4 linked regions of the Homo sapiens genome follow. The protein of the gene in region 1 interacts with the protein of each later gene in a pairwise test. Each region holds a gene or a part of one and is shown on either strand. Other genes may lie near its edges.

What was found.
Region 2: the proteins of KRT20 (region 1) and USHBP1 interact in binary tests that used the Homo sapiens proteins (3 or more experiments, as listed by UniProt).
Region 3: the proteins of KRT20 (region 1) and TFIP11 interact in binary tests that used the Homo sapiens proteins (3 or more experiments, as listed by UniProt).
Region 4: the proteins of KRT20 (region 1) and AMOTL2 interact in binary tests that used the Homo sapiens proteins (3 or more experiments, as listed by UniProt).

What each region holds. Positions count from the first base shown.
Region 1 is NC_000017.11:40,881,350-40,891,019, forward strand, and holds the start of KRT20 (keratin, type I cytoskeletal 20 precursor), read right to left. Parts: upstream 3,894-9,670; 5' UTR 3,837-3,893; coding exon 3,447-3,836; intron 1,306-3,446; coding exon 1,223-1,305; intron 1-1,222. UniProt on the Homo sapiens protein: Plays a significant role in maintaining keratin filament organization in intestinal epithelia. When phosphorylated, plays a role in the secretion of mucin in the small intestine.
Region 2 is NC_000019.10:17,246,602-17,254,745, forward strand, and holds the end of USHBP1 (harmonin-binding protein USHBP1), read right to left. Parts: intron 5,417-8,144; coding exon 5,310-5,416; intron 5,104-5,309; coding exon 4,981-5,103; intron 3,814-4,980; coding exon 3,624-3,813; 3' UTR 2,570-3,623; downstream 1-2,569.
Region 3 is NC_000022.11:26,502,474-26,509,473, forward strand, and holds part of TFIP11 (tuftelin-interacting protein 11), read right to left. Parts: intron 4,456-7,000; coding exon 4,302-4,455; intron 3,987-4,301; coding exon 3,830-3,986; intron 1,321-3,829; coding exon 1,193-1,320; intron 1-1,192. UniProt on the Homo sapiens protein: Involved in pre-mRNA splicing, specifically in spliceosome disassembly during late-stage splicing events. Intron turnover seems to proceed through reactions in two lariat-intron associated complexes termed Intron Large (IL) and Intron Small (IS).
Region 4 is NC_000003.12:134,354,847-134,357,447, forward strand, and holds the end of AMOTL2 (angiomotin-like protein 2), read right to left. Parts: 3' UTR 501-2,601; downstream 1-500. UniProt on the Homo sapiens protein: Regulates the translocation of phosphorylated SRC to peripheral cell-matrix adhesion sites. Required for proper architecture of actin filaments.

The sequences.
Region 1 (9,670 bases):
GCAATCCTCTCACCTCAGCCTCCCAAGTAGCTGGGACAGCAGATGTATGCCACCATGCCCAGCTAATTTTTTTTGTATTTTTGTATAGAGATGTGGTTTTGCCACGTTGCCCAAGCTGTTCTCAAACTCCAGGACTCAAGTGAGCCTCCTGCCTCAGCCTCTCAAAGTGCTGGGATTACAGGCGTTAGCCATCATGCATGCCCTGCCCAGTTTCCTAAAATATCCAACTTTAAAAAATGACACTGCAATGTGACACTCAGTGCTAGGTAAAATTGGAAGTAATGCACCTTTACTGCTTTCATCTTTGGATTTGATTTCCTATTTCCTTCTTGTTAATCCCTTGGAGCATTAAAAGGCTACCCTTCTAACCACAAAGGGCTTTTTGGTGTTAATGCATTGTACAAATTCAGGATGAAGAGGCCTTAGTGTGGAAGCTGTTTGCAAGGAACAGGTCTGGTCACATGTGGTGTGATGACTACAAAGAAAGTGAACACAATTTTTACTTTCTTTTTCTTTTCTTTCTTTCTTCCTTTTTTTTTTTGAGACAAGGTCTCAGTCTGTTGCCCAGGTTGCAGTGCAATGGCACGATCTCAGCTCACTGAAACCTCCGCCTCCCAGGTTCAAGCGATTCTCCTGCCTCAGCCTCCGGAGTAGCTGGGATTACAGACATACGGCATCACGCCCAGCTAATTATTATAGATTGGTCCTGGTTCTTTGGTTGGCCAGACCATCCTGTAAAACACTGGCAAGCCAGAAATCATCAAGAGTCACCCCTGGAACTTGGGTCATACACTTGCAGGCACTTGAATGAACGTGGAGAATTACTTGGAGAATCACCAAGGGTAGACACAAGACTCTCTTTAGATAACAGAAAGGCACTTAGGGAGAAGGAGAATTGTAAATTACTTTGTTATTACTCCAAAGGGCAGAATTAGGTTTAGATACCAGGTTACTAAAAAAAAATTTAGCAACCAGTAATAACCAAGGAGAATAGTAGTTACTGGAGGTGTTTAGTTACATGCCGGGGGATCAAGAAAGAGAAGGCCATCCCTGAGTGCTGGGTTAGCTTCATACATGTAGCTTCTAACCTCCTTTAGGCTTCAGGATTCTGGACATTGAACCGTGCTTCCTTTATCAACAATGATATGGAAAGCTGAGTATCTGGAAGGACTACTAAAGGAATTCTTTTTCAGAAACTTTTGCCACGTATTAGGGAACCTACTTCAGTCTGAAGTCCTCAGCAGCCAGTTTAGCATTATCAATTTGCAGGACACACCGAGCATTTTGCAGTTGAGCATCCTTAATCTGGAAAATACATGAGAAAGAATGACATTTTCTTTTTTATTTATTTATTTATTTATTTATTTATTTATTTATTGAGACAGAATCTTGCTCTGTTGCCCAGACTGGAGTGCAATGGTACGATCTCGGCTCACTGTAACCTCTGCCTCCCAGGTTCAAGCAATTATCCTGCCTCAGCCTCCCGAGTAGCTGGGGTTACAGGCATCCGCCACCATGCCCGGCTAATTTTTGCATTTTTAGTAGAGACAGCATTTTGCCATGTTGGCCAGGCTGGTCTTGAAGTTCTGACCTCAGGTGATCTGCCTGCCTCGGCCTCCCAAAGTGCTGGGATTACAGGCGTGAGCCACCGTGCCCGGCCAAGAATGACATTTTCAACTGGATAGGAGTTTACAAGGATTTAGTTTATCCCCAGCTACAGTGACTATTATGTCAAAAATGATGTTCATTTCAAGTATTTCTACATGAAAATATATAGAAAAAATAATGACATAGTTATTTAACATAACAGAGTCATAAAATGCAACTCTAGATGCCCCAGGGTTTGGTCTACTTTCTTGTGATTTTACAGAAGGATAATTTAACTCAACTTGAGTCATCACACCTTATTGAGTGCCTTGCCTTTGATGTTTCTACTTAGGACATTTCTTTTAGCCCCTGTGGTCTGGTGAACTCCCATTCCTCCCTCATGTCTCAGGTTCGACAACATTGCTTCATAGGAGCCTTCACAGATGCTCTCAAAACTGAACTGGATGATCTGCCTGTGCTCTCATTATCCCTCTGTGTGCTGGTCCCTCTGTCCATCCCTGTATCCTCATAAATCATATTGTGTCCACCATAATATTCCTCAGTCCCCAGCATGGTGCCCAGCACCTAGTTAGTGTTCATTCAGTATTGGCTGAATGAAAGAACATGATGCATGAAAGAACGAAATGCATGATGGAGGCATATAGATGAAAAATCTACTTGCAGAAGATGTTACAATGACATTTCTCTTTCAATGGACCCAGTTTTGGAGAGGGCTGCTTCCTATGGTTGGGACTGTCCAGCTCAATGGGACGGATGGCCTGTGCCTGTGTATTTCAGATGAACCAAACTAGAGTCAGAAACACGAGACAGGTGTGGTTCGAACATTTTTAGTGAGAGCTTGCGAAGGATGAACTTTATTCCGGAAGGGCTATTTAAATGCCATTGCTTCACATGCCCATAGTTTCTAAAATTCCAAAGTAACTTCCCATGGAGTCCGAATCAAATTGCCCTGATGTTTAGTACAACTCAAGAAAAACAGACTTGCTGGTAAGTAAATGCGCTTTGCTCTAAAGGAGTATGAATCTTAACACAAATTACAGTGAACACTTTTCTTAATTAGATAAGAACTTTAATTTGAAGCAAGTGCTCTGTGTCATATCTGAAATTTTCAATTAGGAGCAAAGTCTTCTGCTTTTATTCCATGAAACTGATAAAATACAGAGCTCCACCCTTTTTTTGATGACATAGGAGGAGGTTGTGATATGATTGTAATAAACATGAATTGGGGGCAATAGAACATTTTATTACTGTAGAAGTAGTTTCTGAACTGCTTGATGCTGATGGTCATGTTATTAAACAGGGCACTTAAAAATCCAGGCATCATTAAGACCCATATTCCTGCCACACTGTTTCCACCCAGAATCACTTTGCTATTTAAATCTGCAGTACAGTATTCTAATAGTCATATTATAACATTTACTTAAATAAAAGGAGAAAAGTCTTTGAATTTACTGGGGTTTCAAAACTTGATAAGGACTAGGTGAAAAACTAAGAGAGATTTATCACGTAATTAATTTTTAGCTCTTTTCAGAAAGATTGTTCACTATACATTTAGCCCTGATGTGATAAGCTGTGACAAAGATTCATTTTATTCCGGAGGATAAAATGTTCATATTTTGTATGTAATTGTGTTAAACATTAAAAATAGCATGATTTAAGGTCATCCTGTTGTACAGTCAGGTACTCCAGCACTAAAGGTAGATGAAAGAATTTTTATAGATGTAACATTTTAGCCTAATTTGCTTTACAAAGTCCATTTGGACCTACCTAACATAGATAACCTCTTGATTTATCTTGAAGCTAAACACAGAGTAGGAAACACAAGCATCATCTCTCACCTGACTTCGCAGCTCTTCAATTTGTCTGTAATATGCACTGTAGTCGCGACCAGCCCTCGGGGCGTTGGTTTCGTACCACTGCTTGATTTGCACTTCAAGTTTGGAGTTGGACTGCTCCAGGGTCCGCACCTTTTCTAGGTAGCTCGCTAGACGGTCATTTAGGTTCTGCATGGCCATTTTCTCATTGCCAACAAACAGGTCCCCGCCGCCTGTGAGATCGCTCCCATAGTTCACCGTGTGTCTGGAGTTGGAGATGCGGATGCCCCGGCCTCCAGCACCCCCATAAACGCTGGGTGTCGTCCCGAGGCGCTGCATGCCCACTGTACTGACTACAGGGGCCTGCAAGGAGGAGCTCAGGCTTCTGTGGAAGCTTCTGCGACTGAAATCCATTGGAGATTCCAGGAGGGAGCACCTGTAGCTTCAGGATGGTTGGGGCAGAGTGTGTCTCATGGAGGGTGTTGAGCTAGCCTTTTATGAAGTCCACAGGCAAGAAACTCCTCCTCTGCTGACATGTCACTAGGATTGGCACCACAGTCCACCTTGCCTTACTTCCACGCCCCCCGCTTTGTATAGCAATATGTTAATATGCTTAATTCAATTCCAGAAAATACCACTAGAGGCATTTCTTGGAGGCTTTTATCAGGGGCAACTTTTTTTTTTTTTTAATTAAACAGGTAATAAAAGGAAACAGGAAAGTGTATTCTTTTAGCCCATGCGCCTGCCTTGGCAGGTTTTTTTCATCCTAACATACACACAAAGAATATTTACAATCCTCATGTATAATTTAGGTATCTAAAAAGGCAGATGTGCCTACATAACTGAAAGTCACAATGGAGATAAAGGACAATGTTTGATTTGTATTGAGGAGTTGCTCTTCAGAACCTCTGTTTCATGCTTTGCTTGTGTTTGGCTTTTAAGTTTATTGTGTTTTGGACATCTTATTTTATAAGACTATTAAAATATTTTGTACAAACACAAAACCTCGAATCCCTAAACCAGGAATGAAACCATTGTACATTTGGAGATGTAGTTTGGGGATGTGAATTAAATGAATTTAGCTGAGTGATGGATTAGATGATTTGGGAGGTTATTTTCTTTCTATTTCTAATGTTCTATGACTAAATATTGCATTTTAGGTTTCCAGTCACCACCTGGCTTCAAGTCCTGTTACCAAGACACTTAGAATAAATCACACAGTGCTTTGTACCTGGCATGGTATCAGGATGGGTCTCCTCTTTTGTATGAGGCCAGCTTAACACCCACCATGAGACAGACTCTGCCCCATCCATCCTGAAGCTACTTACAGGTGCTCCTTCTAAAGTCCCCAGTGGATTTCAGTTGCAGAAGCTTCCATGGAAGCCTGATCTTCCTTGTATGCCCCCATAATCACAGCGAGAGTGGCTGTTTATATAGGAAGGGGTGCAGGCGGGGACTTGGGACTACACTCAGCTTCCAGGGTTGGGCTGGAGGCAGCTGCTTGTGTGTGGACCTCTAGACACATGGGCATGATCTCATCGGTGGGAATCTGATTGTAAGCAACCAATAAATGCCTGAGTCACTTGCTTCCCTTCATTCAAACCCCCTGGCTGAGAATTCACACTTCCCATGAAGCATGTAAATCACTTCCTTAGTTAATTAGATAATCACTAATTAATATAATTAGATAATCAGTTAATCACTTCCAAGTTAATTAGAAGGGATTGGAAAAGTCACTAAAAACATCTAATTAATTGTCATCCTGATACTTTAATGGAATTGAGATTTGTATATAATTAAGCAAGCAAGTAAATGCAAAAAAAATTGGAATTTAATTGTCTTATTTTAGTGGCTTATTTGTTGTTGCTGTTGTTCTGAAAGCCAGTCACTTAAAAAAAATTTTTTTTGAGTTTTTAGAAACCAGTGGCTTTTTTACTTTTGAGTTTAAATTTCTTTTACACACAACTTTCTTCTAAAATAAGGTCAGATCATATTATTTCTCTCTTATAAACAGTATACTTTAAAATAATACATTGTGTTTGATTTTATCTTAGTTATATCACAGAAATAAAAATTGAGATAAAATGGAATCTATTTTATGCATTTTATGGTATATGTGTGGGCAGCTCTTATATTTTTATCCATTCATGTATTCATCAGCCAATACTGAGTACTCACCACCAATGACTGGACTGGTAGCAAGAAGACCTTGCTAACTTATTAGAGTTATAAATTACTTTGTTAATAGATGTCACAGCTAAACTCTGTAGCAGAGAAGAACTTTTTATAAACACATGAACTATGTTCTTTATACATGTATTCAAAGATGAATTGTTTTTGGTGTTGATTAATGGGGTAGGAGGTTGTTAGATTAAAGTCATTGGAAAATTATACTATTTAAATTACACAAGTTTTATAGTAAGTTGGTCTCAGCTAAGAGTTTCATATGCTAACACATGATCAAGGTGTGTAGAAGCATTATAAAATCAATAGTTAGCTTTATAATTAGAAAAGAACATGAATGCAGTTGTTAAACATGATGATTTTTGTTCTCTTTTGTAGCACAATTCTTCCTTATGGCTGGACCTATTTATATCAAAGAGTTGAAAATCCCATTTTTAGTTATTTTCCATTTTATTTTTATTTTGAGACAGGGTCTCACTGTGTGACCCAGGCTGGAGTGCAGTGACACAATCACAGCTCACTGCAGCCTTGACCTCCCAGGCTCAAGTGATCCTCCTGCTTCAGCCTCTCAAGTAGCTGGGACTACAGGCACACACGCCATGCTTACATAATTTTTATTTATTTATTTTTGGTAGAAACAGGGTCCCACTATGTTGCCCAGGCTGGACTCAAACTCCTGAGCTCAAGTGATCCTCCCACCCCACCCTCCCAAAATGATGGGATTACAGGTGTGAGCCCCTGTGTCCAGCCGTTTTTTTTTTTTTTTTTTTTTTTTTTGAGACGGAGTCTTGCTCTGTCACCAGGCTGGAGTGCAGTGGCATGATCTCAGCTCACTGCAACCTCCCCCTCCCCGGTTCACACAATTCTCCTGCCTCAGCCTCCCTAGTAGCTGGGATTACAGGTGGGCACCACCACGCCGAGCTGATTTTTGTATTTTTAGTAGAGATGGGGTTTCACCACGTTGGCCAGCCTGATCTTGATCCCTTGACCTTGTGATCTGCCTGCCTCAGCCTCCCAAAGTGCTGGCATTACAGGCGTGAGCCACTGCACCCGGCCCAGCCAATTTTTTTCTTTTTTTTGAGAAATAACTTTGTCTATATCTTATTCCAGAAATCTTTGGCTAGTTTTGGTAAGTTTTTGAGGTTTTAAATTTAAACTAAAATATGATACAATAGTGTCATCATTATGAGGTATAGTCATTCAATCTACCAATTTGTTGGAGTAGAAAAAATTCTACTGGAAAGCCTCCCACCTGTTTATATAAGGGCAGGAGAATTTGCTGGCTTCTCTATATCACTGAGTTTTGTACTTTTGTAGATTATTCGATCTTATAATGTGACCACAGGAAATCAAGTGAGTTTTTCACAGCAATTCATTTTTCTGAGTTATATCTCGAGGACTGAGTAAAGATCCTATTGACCCTTGTTCATACACAAAGTCATGAATTTAGAGACCCTGGTATTTCAGGCTGTTGGGTGACTGCAGCTGTAAATAAATACTTATTAGATCCCAACTTCCTTGTAGCTAGTAGGAGATACATTTTGACTTCTGAGACACTCTACTGAGAGTGTTAATGATTAATATTAAGTATGGCCAGTAGTTGGGAAGGCTATTATAAGCACTACAGTTTTCAGAGGGCTTTCAACTTTTTTCTTTTTTTTTGTATTCTACCATGACCAAGCTATTGCAATCACATATGATAGACATAGAACCTGCAGTCTCTGGAGTGGCATCTTGTTCAGACAGGGAGAAGGAGGGTGGAAGTATGGATGAAGGAAGTTTTGCCCTGAGTTATTTGTTGAAGCGAGGAGATGGGTACAAGGAGGTTGATGTATAGTAAACTTACATCATTGTATTCTGCACAGTTAATCAGTCATATTTAGGTTTTTGTTTGTACTTATTTGGTAATTCTCAGCTGTGTTTTGATGAGTTGGATGGATTTATTTATTGTCTCATAGTGGCTATAGAATGATTGGATGAAGAATATAAATATAAATTGTTTTAGAAAATAAAACAAACTTAAAATTGGAGCAAGTACCAAGCAGATCTGAAATACAAACCAGAGGAAATAAATAATGCCGTTAAAATTACAAGTTCAGTGGATGGATCCAGGAACAGATTAAGCCAGGATTATTGAACAAAATGTAGCTCTGAGGAAAATTTCCAGAATGCAGCTAAGTGACGAAGGAGGAAGTCAAGAAGGCATGAAGGCTATAATTAGAAGGTCTAAATATGTCTAATCAGAGTTCCAGAAGAAGACACAAGAGAATAAGAAAACATTCAACAAAATAAAAAGTGAGAATTTTATAGAATTCTTTAAAAAAAACCCAAGTTCTCAGATTAAGGAGACCTAATGAATTCCAGGCAAAAGGAATAAAAATAAATCACTACACACATTGAGGCAGAAAACCAGATAATTACAAGCAGATAGAGAATAAATCACCAACAAAGGAATGGTGGTTAGACTGATGACTGACTCCTCAAAAGCAACAATGGACACTGGAAATGGAATAGAATCTTCAATGTGCTGGGAGGAAATAACTGCCATTCCGGAATTTTCTGACTCGGTAACATTATATTTGAAGAAGGGTAAAATAAAGCCATTTTCAACATTTAAAAAACTGAATTTGCCATCAACTTCTAAGTTTTCACTAAGAGCAATCTGAAAGAATGTGTTTTAAGCAGAAGGAAGATGATTCCAGATGAAAGTTCTGAGATGCATAAAAGAATTAAAATAATGAACAAATAGAGTGCTAAGCATGCGACCAAATGTAAATGTAAAGACAAGTATTGGCTATAAAATAATATATCTATTGAGAAGAAAAAACAATATGGAATTAAAGTAGATGAGGGCTGGAAGGGGATGAATGGAGTTAAATTGTTCTAAATTGCGGGACTGTTTAGGAAAACAGCAAACATACAGATTAACTTTAGATATTGACAGGTTAAGAATGCATATTATATTTTCCACACAGGGACACATGGCGGAGAACAACACACACTGGCACCTGTGGTTGGGGGGAAAGCATCAGGAAGAATAGCTAATGGACGCTAGGCTTAATACCTGGGTGTTGGGATGATCTGTGCAGTAAACCACCGTGGCACATGTTTACCTATGTAACAAAACTGCACATCCTGCACATTTACCCCTGAACTTAAAATAAAAGTTGAAGAAAAAAAAGAATGCATATTATGTTTTCTAATTTTATGGTTTTGCCTTTCACATGATGGCTCTTACAATGATCTGGAAATAAGCCAGTGAATTAGCACAAAGAGCTCAGAAACAGATCTGTTGCCTATAGAAACTAATTTTGTACGGCTTGGGCATTTCAAATCAATGAGGAAAGAAATGGAGTATCCCATATTTAACAAATGGCAGTTGTATTTCTGTCTAAGGCAAAATTTACCTAAAATATAAGAAAATGAATTCCAGATTCATTAAAGATAAAAATGTGAAAAGTTAAAAACTATACAACATTTAGAAGAAAACACAGAATAATATCTCTAGGAATTAGAGTAAAGGAGTATTTTTAAACAAGACACAAAAAGTGAAAACTGTGAAGTACAAAATTGATACTGATTTAGCAATTTTTATTCATTAAAATATACCATAATTATAATGAAAAAAGCCTCAAACAGGGAGCAGATATTTAGAAGTCATGTAACTGACAAGCAATTAGTTTCCAGAATATGGAAAATTCCTACAAATCAATAAGAAAAAGAAAAGCATCCCAGTGAGAAAGTGGGCAAAATATGAATAGATTTGCAGAGAAGAGGAAAGCTGAATGGCCCATTCCACATCTGCCAATCGGAAAAATTTAAAAAGTTGGACGATAGCAAGGTGGCCGAGGGGAATTCCAGTCCATTCATGTTAGCTGTATAAGTAGGTACAATCACTTTGTAAAATAGTTTGAGATTATCTTAGAAGGCTGAACATTCATATAGCCATCACTCAGCAAACAATTCCTAGGTGTACACTTCAGAGAAACTCTTGTAAATATTGAACGATAGACATGTACAAGAATATTCACAGAAGCATTGTTCATATTAACAACACACACACG
Region 2 (8,144 bases), on another chromosome or scaffold:
CTGGCCGGGGCCGCGAGGTCAGGGGGCCCCTCTGCAGAATTTCTGGCCTCCGGGGGCAGGGCGCCCACCCGCCCCGCGCGGCTGGAGGCGACAGGCATGCCCTGTCTGGGGGCCTGCCCCTTTTTCCCTTTTAATTTCCTTTTCTTTCTGTGCTTTGCAGAAAGGGCTTGGCCTGGCGGCCGGCTGGACTGCAGATGTCTCTTCCAGGCGCCCTGGAGCCTCGCAGCTGCCGCCACCTCCAACTCACCCCATCCCCCAGTACCGGGGCTGGGGCCCGCCCGACCAGCATTTATTAAGCACCCTTTGTATGCGAGGCCCGGGCTGGCGAGCCTCTGGCTCTGGGCAGGTTAACCTTTAACCGGCTGGACAAGCCCTTCCAGGAGTGACCTTTCACCTCGGAGTCTTGCAGCCCCAGCCACCCAGACTGTGGTCCCACCCCGCCCTGAGCCCAGAGCTGGACACCAGAGCATGCAGCTGGGCCTCTGAGAGCTCTGGCCAGGACAGTGCCTTCTGCGCACCCCCTCCTCTGCCTCCCAGAGCCCTGATGAGACTTGAAGAATTGCCCTCCCTGGAGTAGGGGGAAAGATTCTTAGAGATCTTACAACACTTAAAAAGAAACTGAGGTTCTGGGAGAGCCAGGCACACCCAGCCCTGGGCCTCTCAACCTGCTCCAGGGACGTTCTGGCTGCCTGGGAGGTGGAGGAGGAGGCGTTAGTAAACACGAAAAGCAGGAAGGACTAGGATTAGACATGAGCAAGGACTTCCCGAGGTCTAGAGTCGGGTTCTGCCCACAGCCTGATGTAATCCCTGCTGGGAGAGAGGAAGGCGTGGGTGGGCAGAGACGACCCTTTGGTTCTGAGGCTGCATGGGAATGTGACTGGTAATTTGGGATGAGGGCAGGGATCCTAGGCCCCTTGCCTGGACCTGCTAGGATCTTTGGTGGGGAGCATTGGGGTGGAGGTCTCAGAAGGGATTGAAAAGAGATTTAGATGAGAGACAGGCGCTGTGGCTCACGCCTGTAATCCCAACACTTTGGGAGGCCAAGTCAGGAGGATCTCTTGAGACCAGGAGTTCAAGACCAGCCGGGGCAATAAAGTGAGACCCGTCTTGAGCCCAGGTGTTCAAGGCTGCAGTGGGTTATAATCACGTCACGTCACTCCACTCCAGCGTGAGCAAGACCCTGTCTCAAAAAAAAAAAAAAAAAGAAGAGGGAGAGAAGACTCAAGGAATCTTGAGGGGATTGTGAAGGGGAGGGAGCAAAGAACTAGGTTTGGGGGAGACAAGTCTTGCGAGGCAGCTGAGAGCTGGGTGGGAGATGGGGGAAGAAAGACCATCGCAGATCCCAGAAACTCCAGTAGTTCCAGTCCCAAAGGCTGCCCCACCCCCTTCCAGTAGCCTGGCCACCCCTGTGCCCCCTGGGGCCCGCCTGGGGGTGGATCAAGGCTCTACCCCGCCTCCCTGACCCCTGCCCGCGGCCCTGCAGTAACATTTGACCTTGCGGCGGCCGCAAACCAGGGACAAAGGGGCCTAGGCCCATCTGCTGAGGGGGCACCCGTGGGAATGGCCAGATCCTGCTGGGGCAGCCTGGGAACCTGTCTCCGTCCTCCCACATGTGACCTTGGCTCCCTTTGCCCCTCCACAGGCAACCTGGTGGGACCAGGAACTCAGGTCTTAGACTCTGGGGCTCGGCAGGGTACAGGGAAGAAATTCAGCTTCTCTGCCCCACCCCAACACGAGCAAGGTGGTCTGCCTCCATTTCCCTGCTTTCTTCAAAGTTGGCCCAAGTCCAGGGACAGCGTGTGGGTCGGAAGGTGACTAGCCCCAGCCCTCGCTGGAGGGGACTGTGCTCGCCACCATACTTCTTGTTCTGTTTCTGGGGTCAGGTTGACTGGATTCAAGTCCAGGCCGCTGACTGGCGCTGACCTCAGGCTGACGTGGTCCTGCCCTGGGAGAGGCGGTGAACACACCTGCACAGGTGAGGCCTGGAGCACCTGCCCCCAAGGCTGGGAATGAAAGTCTTTCTAATCCCTGTCTCGGGTTTCAGCTGCCACCCTGAAGGGGGACAGCTGGCCACTAATCCAAGCTTGGCTGGGTCGTTCCAAGCTCCCCTTTCCCAGACTCAGCCAGTCCTGGTGTGGAGGGGCAGGGAGATGTGACTTATGCAAATGACATGCTAATTCATTGCCTGCTATTAACCTGACACGTCCCACAGCTCCTGGGCCCCCAGGAGAAAGCTGGAACTGGCCACCATTGGCATTCATTCTGAGTTTCTCTTGAAGTACAACGCCCCCTGAGTCCCAGACTATTACCTTTGCTATGCCTGTCCCCCACCCAGAAACCCTTTACCTTATTTTATTTATTTATTTTTGAGACAGACTCTCCTATTTTGCCTAGGCTGGTCTTAAACCCCTGGGCTCAAGCAGTCCTCCTCCCTCGGCCTCCTGAGATACTGGGATTACAGGCAAGCTCGACCACATGGAGTCCAGAAACCCTTGACCTTAGCTTTGAGTTAGTAGCAACTCGTCATCCACACCCTGAATCTGAACCATTCCAGCTTCAGTCTCCCTCCTTTTTGTTTTGTTTTGTGTTTTATTTATTTATTTAGAGACAGAGTTTTGCTCTTATTGCCCGGGCACGATCTTGTTGTTGGCGCGATCTCGGTTCACTGCAACCCCCGCCTCTCAGGTTCAAGCAATTATCCTGCCTCAGTCTCCCGAGTAGCCGGGATTACAGGCATGTGCCACAACACCCAGCCAATTTTTGTATTTTTAGTAGAGACGGGGGTTTCACCATGTTGGCCAAGCTGGTCTCAAGCTCCTGACCTCAGGTGATCCTCCCCGCCTCAGCCTCCCAAAGTGCTGGGATTACAGGCATGAGTCACCACGCCTGGCCTGTTTTTTTTTTTGAGACAAGGTCTTACTCTGTGACCCAGACTGGAGTGCAGTGGCGTGATCTCAGCTCACTGCAACCTCCACTTCCCAAGCTCAAGTTACCCTCCCACTTTAGCCTCCTAAATATCTTTATAGGCACATGCCACCACGCCTGGCTAATTTTTGTATTTTTTTGTAGAAATGGGGTTTTGCCATGTTGCCCAGGCTGGTCTTGAACTCCTGGGCTCAAGTGATCTACCCACCTTGGCCTCCCAAAATGCTGGGATTACAGATGTGCACCACTGAGCCCGGCCCCCTTCAGGAAAATCTGCCAGCCAAACCCAGCATCTCCCTGGGAAGGGGCTGCCAGGAGAAGCTCTGTCCAGTCCCCATGAATCCCTCCCTGGGCTTCGGGAGACAGGCCAGTTGGAACTTCAGCTGTGGCTATGCAACCTCACGGACCCCCGAAATGCGTCAGTCCCAGGGACCTGGTCCCATAGCCCAGGTTGCTTCTGGCCTGACCCCACTGATATGAAGTTCACATTCCACTTGGTGCCAGGCCAAAGACACCTGAGTCTTTCTTCATTGCCTGGCCACACCCCATCAGGCCCTGGACACCCATGTGCACCAGCTTCCCTCACGCCAAATGTGCCCCAACATGCCAAATCATGCAACATGACATGATGTCACTCCAGGACAGTTTATGACATGCCACAGCTGTCTGGCATGTCCAGACATGGCTGGGTAAGGGGCCTACAGAAAGGTGTCCCCAAGCTGGGGAGGCGGGAGGGGAGGCCTGGGCTTCCCCAGGGCCCTTGCAGTGGCTTCGAGCACCGCCACCTCCTCGGCCTGCTGAGCCTCCATGAGTGCCATCTGCTGCTCCAACTTCCGGCGTTGCTCTTCCTGCTTCCGGTGGGCTCCTCGGAAGGCCAGGACCAGGGCGCTGGAAGGGGTGGGTGGCTGGGTCAGGAAACAGCCCCCGAGTCCACCCAAGGCAAGGGCCGTGTACTCCCACTCCCAGAATGGGGGCTCTTTCACATTGGGTCTCCAAGGGTCCCAGCTAGCTGGTCTTTTGTTGTTGTTGTTGTTGTTGTTTGAGACAGAATTTCGCGCTTGTCACCCAGGCTGGAGTGCAATGGTAAGATCTCCCCTCACTACAACCTCTGCCTCGAGGGTTCAAGTGATTCTCCTGCCTTAGCCTCCCAAGTAGCTGGGATTACAGGCGCCCACCACCACGCCCAGCTAATTTTTTTGTATTTTTTAATAGAGACAGGGTTTGACCATGTTGCCCAGACTGGTCTTGAACTCCTGACCTCAGGTGATCCGCCTGCCTCAGCCTCCCAAAGTGCTGGGATTACAGGCGTGAGCCACCATGCCCAGCCTGTTTTTTCTTGTTGTTGTTTTTTGAGATGGGGTTTCGCTCTTGTTGCCCAGGCTGGAGTGCAATGGCACAATCTCGGCTCACTGCAACCTCTGCCTCCCGGGTTCAAGCGATTCTCCTGCCTCAGCCTACCGAGTAGCTGGGATCACAGGCATGCGCCACCACGCCTGGCTAATTTTGTATTTTTAGTAGAGATGGGGTTTCTCCATGTTGGTCAGGCTGGTCTCGAACTCCCGACCTCAGGTGATCTGCCCACCTTGGCCTCCCAAAGTGCTGGGATTTCAGGCGTGAGCCACTGCGCCTGGCCCAGCCTGTTGTTTTTTTTTTTTTTTTTTTAGACAGAGTCTTGCTCTGTCACCCAAGCTGGAGTGCAGTGGTGTGATCTCTGCTCACCACAACCTCCACCTCCTGGGTTTAAGCAATTCTCCTGTCTCTCAAGTAGCTGGAATTACAGGCACGTGCAAAGACGCCTAGCTAATTTTTGTATTTTTAGTAGAGATGGGGTTTCACCACGTTGGCCAGGCTGGTCTCAAACTCCTGACCTCAAGTGATCTGCTGGCCTCAGCCTCCCAACATGCTGGGATTACAGGTGTGAGCCACCACACCTGACCGTTACTGCCTATCTTGGGGCAGTGGGGAATGCTAAGGCCCAGAGACAGCCAGGGATACTTCTGATATCCTGGTGGGGGATGGTGCCAGGGGGATTGGGGGGATGCAGAACAGTCCTACCTGTGGGCTTTGCATAAATCCCTGTTCAGCTCGGCACTCTGAGACCGTCTGGCTCGCCCCTTCTGAGCCACCTGTTCCAGCTCCCTGCGCAGAGACTGCAGCTGCTCCTGCAGGTCCAGTGTCCTGTTGCGAAGGAGAAGAGAGGGGGCTCACAGCCCCAGCCGATCCTGTTTCCCAGGTCTCCTCCTACCCACCTGCCCACAGTATTGTCATGTAAACACACCTGTACACCGGGGTACACCTTAGCTTCTACTGCAGACGACACCCCCGGGGGCTCTCACATAGGCTGCCTGCCCACCCCCCGCACAGCCCAGGACCCAGGCACACACCTGGTGAGCGATGCTGCCAGTTCCTGGGCTAACTTCTCTGGGTCCCAGGCTCTGCCCACCTGGCCACCATCAATGCCACTGGTGCCACCAGGGACAGCAGGAAGGCCCTAAGGGAGGCAGAAGACAAGAAAGTGACATTAACCTAGGCCAAGTCCGTGCTTGGCCCACACTGGACATTGGAGCTGCCCAGACAGTGGCAGCTGCTGTGCTCTCAGAGACCCACATCTGGTTCGATATACCAATAAGAGCAAAATTATACTCTGATAAGGGAAATATCCTATTTAATTAAAAAAAATTTTTTTTGAGACAGAGTCTCACTCTGCCACCCAGGCTGGAGTACAGTGGCACGATCTTGGCTGACAGCAACCTCCGCCTCCCAGGTTCAAGCGATTCTCCTGCCTCAGCCTCCCAAGTAGTTGGGATTACAGACACATGCCACCAGACCCGGCTACTTTTCGTATTTTTAGTAGAGACGGAGTTTCACCATGTTGGCCAGGCTGGTCTCGAACCTCATCTCTAAAAATAAAATTTAGGGGCCAGGTGTGGTAGCTCATGCCTGTAATCCCAGCACTTTGGGAGGCCAAGACGGGTGGATCACTTGAGGTCAGGCGTTCAAGACCAGCCTGGTCAACATGGTGAAACCCTGTCTCTACTAAAAATATAAAAATTAGTCTGGCATGGTGGCAGACCCCTGTAATTCCAGCTACTTGGGAGGCTAAGGCAGGAGAATCGCTTGAACTTGGGAGGCGGAGGTTGCAGTGAGCCAAGATCATGCCACTGCACTCCAGCCTGGGCAACAGAGTAAGATACGGTCTCAAAAAAAAAAATTAGCCAGGCATGGTGGCGGGCACCTGGAGTCCCAACTAACTGGGCGGCTGAGGCAGGAGAATCACTTGAAGCTGGGAGGCAGAGGTTGGAGTAAGCTGGGATCGCAGCACTGCACTCTAGCCTGAGCAACACAGTGAGACTCTGTCTCAAAAAAAAAAACAACAAAAAAACAAAAACAAAAACTAGAGATCCACTGGAAGTCCTTCCTCCTGTCTAATCCTTGTTTGAAATAATAATAATTTTTTTTTTGAGAAGAGTCTCGCTCTGTCGCCCAGGCTAGAGTGCACTGGCGTGATCTCAGCTCACTGCCAGCTCTGCCTCCCGGGTTCACGCCATTCTCCTGCCTCAGCCTCCCGAGTAGCTGGGACTACAGGCGCCCGCCACCATCCCCAGCTAATTTTTTGTATTTTTAGTAGAGACAGGGTTTCACCGTGTTAGCGAGGATGGTCTCGATCTCCTGACCTCGTGATCCGCCCAACTCGGCCTCCCAAAGTGCTAAGATTACAGGCTGGGATTACAGGCATGAGCCATCGTGCCCGGACAGTAATAATTTTTTTTTCTTTTTTTTTTTTTGAGACGGAGTCTCGTCGCCCAGGCTGGAGTGCAGTGGCGCAATCTCGGCTCACTGCAACCTCCACCCCTCCAGGTTTAAGCAATTCTCTGTCTCAGCCTCTGGAGTAGCTGGGATTACAGGCACGTGCCACCATGCCCAGCTAATTTTTTTGTATTTTTAGTAGAGACAGGGTTTCACCATGTTGGCCAGGCTGGTCTTGAACTCCTGACCTCATGATCCACCCGCCTCGGCCTCCCAAAGTGCTGGGATTACAGGTGTGAGCCACCGTGCCTGGCCAATAATAATTTTTTAAAAATTAGGCTGGACGTGGTGGCTCACGTCTGTAATCCCAGCACTTTGGGAGGCCGAGACGGGCGGATCAGCCTGAGGTCAGGAGTTTGAGAGCAGCCTGGCCAACATGGTGAAACCCTGTCACTACTAAAAATACAAAAATTAGCTGGGTGTGGTGGTGCACGCCTGTAATTCCAGCTACTCGGGAAGCCAAAGCAGGAGAATCGCTTGAACCTGGGACGCAGAGATTGCAGTGAGCCAAGATCGCACCACTGCACTCCAGCCTGGGTGACAGAGCAAGATCCGTTTCCCAAAAAAAAAAAAAAAGAAAAAAAAAATTAAAGGCCAGGCGCTGTGGCTCATGGCTGTAATCCCAGTACTTTGGGAGGCTGAGGTGGGCAGATCACCTGAGGTCAGGAGTTCTACACCAGCCTGGCCAACATGGTGAAACCCCATCTCTACTAAAAAATACAAAAATTGGCCAGGCACGGTGGCTCACGCCTGTAATCCCAGCACTTTGGGAGGCTGAGGCAGGTGGATCACAAGGTCAGGAGATCGAGACCATCTTGGCTAACACAATGAAACCCCGTCTCTACTAAAAAAATACAAAAAAAATTAGCCGGGTGTGGTGGCGGGCGCCTGTAGTCCCAGCTACTCGGCAGGCGGAGGCAGGAGAATGGCGTGAACCCGGGAGGCGGAGCTTGCAGTGAGCCGAGATTGCACCACTGCACTCCAGCCTGGGCTACAGAGCGACACTCTGCCTCAAAAAAAATAAAAAATAATAATAAATAAGCCGGGTGCAGTGGCTCAAGCCTGTAATCCCAACACTTTGGGAGGCTGAGGCGGGCGCATCACCTGAGGTTCAGAGTTCGAGACCAGCCTTAGTAACATGGGGAAACCTCATCTACACTAAAAATACAAAAATTAGCCGGGCGTGGTGGCGCGTGCCTGTAGTCCCAGCTACTCAGGAGGCTGAGGCAGGAGAATCACTTGAACCCAGGAGGTGGAGGTTGTGGTAAGCCAAGATCGGGCCATTGCACTCCAGCCTGGGCAACAAGAGCAAAACTCTGTCTCAAAAAAAAAAAAAAGAGATGAGGTCTCGCTGTGTGGCCCAGGCTGGAGTGAAATGACATAATCGTGGCTCGCTGAAGCCTCCAACTCCG
Region 3 (7,000 bases), on another chromosome or scaffold:
AGCAAAGGTGTCTCTTACAATCAGGGTCTGCAAAACCTTTCTAGAGGAGGAGCTAAGGCAAGCTTGTCCAACCCGCAGCCCAGGACGGCTCTGAATACGGCCTGTTTACGAACACAAATTTGTAAACTTTCTTAGTGTGACGGTAGTAAAGTCCAGCCCACAGAAGTTGGTTTTGGGGTTGTCACTATGTTTTTCTCATACTGGTTAAGACTTGTCATTTTTTCTCTAAAAGTATCTAGACATCTGGCTACTTTGGGAAAATCAGAGGATCAGGCAATACTGAGCCCACATCCTCATAAGCAACAATCACCTAGAGCTGAATAAAGATTTACCTTCTAGACAGACTACAGCCTCACCTCTGTGCCACAGTCCCCACCACTCTTTATTGTCTAGCACCTGGCTCATCTTACTTGCTTCTGTGGTGTGCCTGGCACCTGTAGGCTTCTGAGAACACCTGACTCACAGTGGTCAATCCCACATTTATCAAATAACTCTTTCATGAAAAGGTCAGTGACATGAAGAGTAACATGTCTCTTTGCAGCATCCTGCTTTCCCCCATAAATTCAAACAGGAAAAGAGTAATACTTCAATCAAGAGAGCTGGCCCTTTCTATCACTGGGGAAAAGGGACACACAGCTGCCAGCAGATGGCTCCCTGCTGCACTTGGGATGAAACCTGAGCACCTAAAAATGGCTGTCATGGCTGTCTTGTGGACCACCCACCCCTCTGAATGCACTTCCTTCCCCTCTGCTTTGTGTACCGCCCTCCCACCGCAAGGGCTTCCTTTATGGTTTCTTAACCACCAAGCTCAGAGCCTCTCAGTGTCCTCTGGCTTGTCAGCTCACCCTTCTGCCAAGTCTCAACTGAAATGTTTCCTTTCCCAAAAGGTTTCCCTGACCAGCCTATTTATAAAAGTAGGTCAACACCACCTCCCAACCCCCAGCCTTATTTTCTGTCTAGGCAGCTCCTGGCACCTTCTGCCATTTCAACTGCCACTTCCACACCACAGCTGCTTGTTTACTCTCTGTCCACCCTAGCCCTCTCATCATGGTGCACCTAGCCTTCAGCCCAGTACCTGGCATACGGTACATGTACAATAAACATCTGAGGACTAACAGAATGAAGGGATAAATGAACAGCCATTAGAAATGGACAGGACACCATCCACCCATGTCTCCTGACTTCCAGTTACCTCTTCAGCTTCTTCCTCTGAGTCAACCACAGGGAAGTCTTGCATGGACTGAGTGGTGCGCTCGGATCCATAAGCCCCCACAGCACCTTTTCCCTTTCTCTGCTTGGCTTCAATTGGGTTAATGATACCTGAGGAATTTCAGCAAAAAAAAAAGAGAGTCTTACGATCACAGCAATTCATGTATGTGAATCAGCCACTCAGTGAAATGACAGTTTCTTGCTCCTTCCACAAAATAACATGCTACTCAGGAAGGAGAGCTATTCTCTGCCCTCAGAACACTACTCTTGTCCCTTGTGATTTGAAACTTATGAGCATTTATGCTACCACAGAACAGTCTGCTGACTAGTTTATTTATATCCCAAATAGATTTCCATTTCCACTTGGATTGTTTAGTGGACAGGAAGAAAACAGAACACTACATTTATAACTGAGAACTCCAGCACACTAAATTCTATGCTTCACTTCTTTGGGAGCCTCTATTAGGGAAAATGCAATAATTCCAATACTATACTGATTCTGACTGAAGTGAAGCTGCAATTTAATATAAGACTCCTCACATATTTTACTTAGGAGTTCCTATCTCCTGTGTTTAACTTTTTTATAACAAGTTTAAGCCCTGGAAATAAACGTTGTTTTTCTCATAAAAGAGTTTACGAATAGGACCACAACATTTCAATGAAGACGTTCCCCTGACTCCAAATTTTCCATCCCTGCCCCCCTTCCATTTAGTTCCACTGAAGTCTTAAATAAGAGCTATCCCTGGGCCAGATGTGGTGGCTATGCTTGTAATCCTAGCACTTTGGGAGGCCAAGGTCTTGAACCAGCCTGGGCAACATAGTAAGACCCCATCTACAAAAAAAGAAAAAATTAGCCAGGCACAGCAGAGTGTGCCTGTGGTCCCAGCTACTTGGCAGGGTTGAGCCCAGGAGGTTGAGGCTGCAGTGAGCTATGATCATGCCATGCCATTGCACTCTACCCTAGGTAACAGAGTGAGACTTTGTATCAAAAAAAAGCAAAAAAACTGTCCCCTCATTCTCATTCAGTGTATCTTTACTCAAGTTCATGTATTTTTCATGTACCTAATGTTTTCAACACATAACCTGGATTTCACTTTAATAATTATTTAGAGGCCAGGCGCAGTGGCTCACACCTATAATCCCAGCACTTTGGGAGGCCGAGGAGGATGGATCACTTGAGGTCAGGAGTTCGAGACCAGCCTGGCCAACACAGTAAAACCCTGTCTCTACCAAAAATACAAAAATTAGCTGGGCGTGGTGGCGGGTGCCTGTAATCCCTGCTACTCGGGAGGCTGAGGCAGGAGAATCACTTGAACCCAGGAGGTGGAAGTTGCAGATGAGTTGAGATCGTGCCACTGCACTCCAGTCTGGGTGACAAGAGTGAAATTCTGTCTCAAAAAATAATAATGTTATTATTATTATTTAGAGACTGGAATTTGAATATGTAGGATACATTTGATTATATCTACTTGGCAATCATGCATAGGAAATAGCTCAAGAAGAGGGGGAAATGTTCCTGTAGGAAGAATCCAACTGTTTGGTTTGAGAGGCTTTGGTCTCAAGAAGGTAAGAGTGTGACAGGGGCTGTGTCTCAATGGGGCTGGCCATGAGAAGACAGGAGGAGACTGGGCTACTAGAGGAAGATGGAAGTAACCAATGCAGGATTTGCTCAGCCAGTTTTATAGCCATATGGCTCTAGCTATTACAAAAACTATGCACGATGTTTTACTGATATTCCTGAAGGACAAATAGGGTTATTTCCACAAAATTAAAACCCTTGTGAGTAGGGATGGCAAACTCAAATGACTCTGGGACCAAGAAAAGTTCCTGTGGGTTGGGGTGGAAGACAACAGGGGGTAATGGAGACTGCCTCCAAGAGAAGGCCATGTCCATCGTCCCAGGAGCAGTTCTCACTTGCCTCAACTAACTACTGCCAGGCAAAATCTAGAATTTTAGGTGAAATTGTCTGTTTTTTAAATATTAGCAACTAATTCATTTTTGTTTTTATTTATTCTATTTATTTATTTATTTATTTATTTATTTATTTATTTATTCAGGGATGGAGTCTCGCTCTGTTGCCCAGGCTGGAGTGATCTCGGCTCACTGCAACCCCCACTTCCTGGGTTCAAGCGATTCTCCTGCCTCAGCCTCCTGAGTAGCTGGGATTACAGGCACATGCCTCCACACCCAACTGATTTTTGTATTTTTAGTAGAGACGGGGTTTCACCATGTTCATCAGGCTGGTCTTGAACTCCTGACCTCAAGCGATCCACCACCCGCCTTGGCCTCCCAAAGTGCTGGGATTACAGGTATGAGCCACCACACCCAGCCTCATTTTTGTTTTTAGAAGCACTGGTCAGGACCAGAAAAAAAGCCTGTTTTCAACCTGTTTGCAGCCTGTTTTAGACCCTAACCCTTTCCTTGCTGTTGAAACAATTACTTATTTAACTTGAGCTTTGATAAAGCAAGGTAGCTTAGGAACGCAAATGTCTTGTGCTGGCAAACCAGGCTGGAGAGATAAAGTGCTTTTAAAAGGGAAAAGCAAACCTCCTCTCCCAACGCCCCTCTCCTTCCCTATGCCTGCCCTCCTCCATCATGCAAGACGACAAAGGTGCAATACCTTGTGCATTCTTCCCGAGGCCCCGTCCAGGGACGTAGCCCATCTTCTGAAGAAGCTTCTGTCCAATTCCTTTTGTGTGTCTTTCCCAGCTGCCGAAGTCCATGAAAGATTTGGTTCCTCCTGCAAAACCTTTCTGGCTGGGCTTAAAATTGCCACCCTGCAAAAAAGAAAAATCAAAGCTTAGTTAATGGAAAAACAAAATGAAGAAAAATCTAAGAAAGCTTGGCCAACAGGAAAATGGCCTAAGTTATACAGCACTATGAAAAGTGTCATATGAACCAAAAATGTGTGTGATAACGTGTCAGGAAGGAAGAGACTGCACTACACACTTCACAACTCACAGAAACCTGCCACCAAAAGGAGACACTCACGAAATTCATTCCAGATGAGTTTCTCCCTGGCTAGAAAATGCTTGGGCCACAATGACCTTTGAAGGATATTCCTAGGGTCACAATCCTGCAATAGAGACTACCGTTTTTAGCTTCCTTGGTCCAAAATCCTTAGGAAAGTCGTCCTGCTTAACAGGTTTCTCTTCGTCATCAGAATCTTCCAACTCTGCCTCCTCCGCTGCCCCTTTCTTGAGCCCTGCGCTGATGAAGTTGACTGGCGCAGAGTAGTCACGGGCCCTGTAGGCACAGAAACAAAGCCCCACCAGGTCGGTAAAGAACTCTTTTCTCTGCAGCGATCCTTTTGCAGAAACTACGTGCTTGAAGACTCCTTAGAGTGAATCTCATGGGAGGTTTTTTAAAAAAGTAACACATTTTTTAATGTGTCAAAAAATCCAAAGGACCCCAGATTTGGCTTCCTGTAGTCACATTTAACATTTTACCTGACATATCCCTCTACGGCTGAAGAGTTATCACATCAATGTAGGGTTGATTACAAATTCAAAATATGATGTGATAATACAATTTTCCTACATTTTAAAAAATTAATTTATCATAAAAAGCAATTGTTTTGAAAACTATTTCAAGTACAAAAATCCAACAGGAGCAGAAATTTTGATGGAAAATCATAAATAAAACCCATTGAAAGATTATATGAATGTAAAGCATGTAACAATTATATTAATCAAACTTAGAAAAAGCTCCTAGCCATTAAATTTATTTGAATGTGAAAATTTCCAGCCAGGGCAACATGGTGAGACTTCGTCTCTATAAAAAAAAAATAAATAAAAATTAGCCAGGCATGGTTGTGCAAGCCTGTGGTCCTAACTACATGGGAAGCTGAGATGGGAGGATTGCTTGAGCCCAGGAAGTTGAAGCTGCGGTGAACTATAATCATGTCACTGCACCCCAGCCTGGGCAAAAGAGTGAGACCTTATCTCCAAAAAAAAAAAAAAAAGAAAAGAAAATTACACTAAAGTCCCCTAAGAAATAAGAAATTAACTCTATAAAATGAAATATATTGATTTAAACTCTGACTGCTTCAAGTACTTACATTAAGCCATTAACCTCAGGTCTTTTTTGTATAAAATAAAATTGATATATTTGTACTGTGTGGTTTAAAAAAGAAAAAATTACAATAAAAAACCCTGGAGCCAGGTACAGCGGCTCATGCCCATAATCTCAGCACTTTGGGAGGCTTGAGGCCAGGAGTTCAAGACCAGCTGGGCCAACATAGCAAAATCCTATCTCTAATAAAAATACAAAAAACTAGCTGAGTGTGGTGGCACACGCCTGTAATCCCACGCCACTCAGGAGGCTGACGCATGAGAAACGCTTGAACCCAGGAGACAGAGGGTGCAGTGAGCTAAGGTCACGCCACTGCACACTCCAGCTTGGGTAATAGAGACTGTGTTTCAAAGAAAAAAAGAAAACCTGGGAATACAGCAAATAAAGGGATGCCTTGTAAAATGACCAACCTAGTAATTCAACACCCTCAGGGCAACAACAGAATTTAGGGAGTTTTTTCCTAAAATTGTAATATAACTTAGTGATTTAGATCCCAAACTCTAGAGTCAGATAGGTCCAGGTTCCAATTCTAGCTTAGCCTCTGCCTAGTTGTATGACCATTAGCCTCAGTCTCTTAATCTGTAAAATGGGGACAATAATGGTACCTTTCTCATAAGGAAAATTAATCCAGGTTTATGAAATAGCCAGGACAAGTAAGCAGCCAAGAGATGTTAGCTATTATTATTATCTTATGATTATGCAATTCTTGTTCCCTGATCTATTTGTCATCCACTTTCAGACTTCCTTGTGGATGAGAAGTTTGGACTAATCTCTATACTCTTTCTCCCCCAGCCTCCTTTGAAAAAGGCACATTCTCAGCTGGGTGTGGTGGCTCACGCCTGTAATCCCAGCACTTTCGGAGGCCGAGGCAGGCGGATGACAAGGTCAAGAGATCCTGGCCAACATGGTGAAACCCCGTCTCTACTAAAAATACAAAAATTAGCTGGGTGTGATGGCACATGCCTGTAGTCCCAGCTACTCGGGAGGCTGAGGCAGGAGAATCACTTGAATCCAGGAGGCAGAGGTTGCAGTGAGCCAAGATTGCACCACTGTACTCCAGCCTGGCGACAGAGCAAGACTTCATCTCAAAAAAAAAAAAAAGAAAAAGAAAAAGGCACACTCTCAATAGGATAGAGCCTAGAGGCCACAGGTGAGGCCATGGAGGAAAAAACCCCCAACCTGGCACACCCTGGTTGAGTGAGGTTCAGCCAGGGCACACATAACCTTGTGCTGGGGAGAAGACGTGCAGCCTGAATCCTCATTGCCCACCACTATCCTAGACCAGTCCTCCACTACCTGTGCAGGGACCACTGGCTTGGCCTCCTCACAGTCTTCCACTGTGGCTCCATGCCTATTGAGCACACCAGCAAAAGGGTCTTCTCAAAACATAACCCAGCCCCACATCACACCCTCTCTATCACACACACTATGCTACCCTTCCCCCTCTCTGCTCCAGCCCCCAAGCCTTTCATATCCTTGTGGATACCGTGATGCTTCCCATCAAGGGCCTTTGCATATTGGGACCTCTTCTACCACCCTAGTTACCTTCTACTGTCAGTCATATCAGCTTAAGGGTCACTTTTCTCCACAGAAATCTTCCTTGACCTCTCAGAATAGATGAAATGCCCTAAAATGTGTTCTCCCTCATGTCCTCATGTCCCTCATGTCCTGCATCACAGTCACAAGTTTGATCGTCTGAGTTGTTAATGCCTATTTC
Region 4 (2,601 bases), on another chromosome or scaffold:
CTGACTCTAGTTCAGGGCTCAATGGGAGAAAGGCTGGCATAGATAGTGCCCCAGTGGCAGGAGGCAGGCTGGAGGGTTGGGTGGAGGTGTGGCCATGGGGTGGGTTTGATGCCTCTGCATGGAGAGCTCCTCATCCAGTGGGACCCATCACCATCTGCAAAGTTGCTAGAAAAGTTTCTGGATGTTTCCAATTCTTCCACCTGCTTGTCTTCATACTTGTGGGCTGGTAGGCCAGCTCGGGAAGACACCTTCTCTAGGATCTCAACTTAGTTACTCATCAACATGGCTCCCGAGTTCCCACATTGGCCCCGAAGACACTTCACTCACGGCCATGGTGGGAAACTGTTCCTGTCACATGTCACGTAGGCTGTCTGGTAGCCTGCTGCTGCCTCATGGCCAGCTAACTGCTGGCCACATGCTGACTGGGAACCTCAGGGTCCTAACACACTTATAGAAGCACAAGACAGGTATTTTGTTTCTGATACAAGAACAAGCAAGACTGAGAATGGCTTTCTTTAATTTTGAATTGGAGCAATATGCTTTCCTGAGCATCAGGAAAGAGTGGTGATGTCACAGCAAAGGAGGGAGGCGGTGGCTAAGAACATGCACATTCTTGAATGTCCTCTGCATGGTGCCTGGCCTTCTGGATGGTTTCGGACAAAACTTTATGTGCTAGGTGGGAGTGGGAAAAGGAGTGGGGGAAGGATAAAGCCATCTTTGGACACCCACTCCCACTGTGGATAACCACAGCGTGTGGCCGAACAAAGCTGATTAGAACACAGCCCTACCTCGGGAGGCTGCCATCTGCCAGGCCCTCCTTCCCCTCCCAGCCTTCAAGAAATGTTATCTATGAAAGGGGAAAAATGCCAGCCACATCCTCATTCCAACTCTATCCTTAATGCAGCTTCACAAAATTCCTAAATTCTATCTTGGGTCCTTGAAGAGATTGGACTATGACTTGGGTGGCCCCCCAAAATCCTCACCCTTTCCCTTCCCTCAGTGCAAAGTCTCACCTGTGCAAAGACATCACTTTTAATTATTTTTTTTTAATTAAAATACTGTTATACCCAGTGGAATGCGGCAGCAATCCTGGTACAGGGTGGCATAACAAAACAGCCATGTTTACATTTTAAATATTTACGATAACTTAAACATACAGACACACATCATGGTCTTTGGCAGAAAATGTTCACAGCACAAAAAATACTTTAAAAGAAATACCAAATATTAATCCAAAATATATTAAGTTGTTTTTTTTCTTTCACAATATTTTTTGCCTTTTTTTCCTCTTTTTTCTTTTTGCTTTGTAAACAATGCACATGAACCAAATGTATTTTTCAGCTTTAAACAGGGGTAGGGGAATTTTTTAAAAAAAATTGCAATTGTCCAGCAAATGCAAATGTTTAAAAAGGAAACTTGAGGAACCATGGAAATAAAACAACACATACCAAACCTAAAAACGATAAAGGAAGAAAACAAAGAATCAAGGAGAACTAAAAACGGTAAAGACAAAACTGCTAAAACCCACCAATAGCTCCTGGGGCTGAAGTGAGGGACTCTTTAAGACCAGAAGTCAAAGTCACTGCTGCTAGCAGGCTGCCATGTGGGTGTTTCACCCCAATTCCAAAGCATCTGGTGCTGCTTTAGGGCGCTGGGCATGGGTAGCTTGAGGAGCCAGCCTCCTGGGCACTGTTTTGTGATGGGGGCTCCATTCAGAGGACTATTTGACTCTTGTAGCTCATTAACTAGTTTTCAACTGCTTTGCTCCTCTCCCAAACCCTCCAGGTGGGAATGAAGACACTTATGCTAACAAGACATCTCCAGTTTCTCAGAAAGAACTGGTACCGGGTAGGGCCACCGAAGCCCACCTGGGGGCATGGCAGATGTCTGTTCACGGTGGCTCATTTCATCTGGCTCAGGGTTTATGACCAAACTGACAGGATGTTCCAGGGACAGGAGCTGTGGAGCCACTTCAAGAGGCTGGTGGTGGGGGTCCCGTGGGCATTTATAGGGCTCAAGATAGAGGAAAAGGCAGCCGAGATCCTGGGAATCGAGCAGCTTTAACATCCACGGGCCAGGAACTTGAGGAGGAGGCATAACTGGGAGGCCAGTCAGAAGTTTCAGAAACTGACAGTAGGAAGAGGGGAGCACAGCCCATGGAGACACATCGGAACCTGCAGGCCTCAGTCTTCTGTTCCACAAGAAAGGGAATTATATACAAACTGCGCACTGTCTCCCAGTCCACTTAAATGGCCCCTCACCCACAGCAAGTGAGAAGGTGAGGCTGTGTCTTCTCCAAGACTAACACCCTTAATAGTCCCCAAAAAATTCAAGTCTTAGTATCCCAAGAAGGCAGTGAGGAACTGAAGAGCAGATGACGTTGGCTGGAACCAAACTTAGCCAGAGAACAATATGGCTGACTTGATTAGTGAACCAGTCCACCTGGTGTCCACGGGCAGCCGTCCGTGGAAATTAGTTCCCCAAACCAACACAGCCACTCCCTCCCTGCCTGACTGACAACTGGCAGGGCAGAGGGAGCTCAGCTCCTTTCTGAGCTGTCAGTTGCTACCCCAGTAGCAGGCCTTGGGCAAGAAGTCAAGG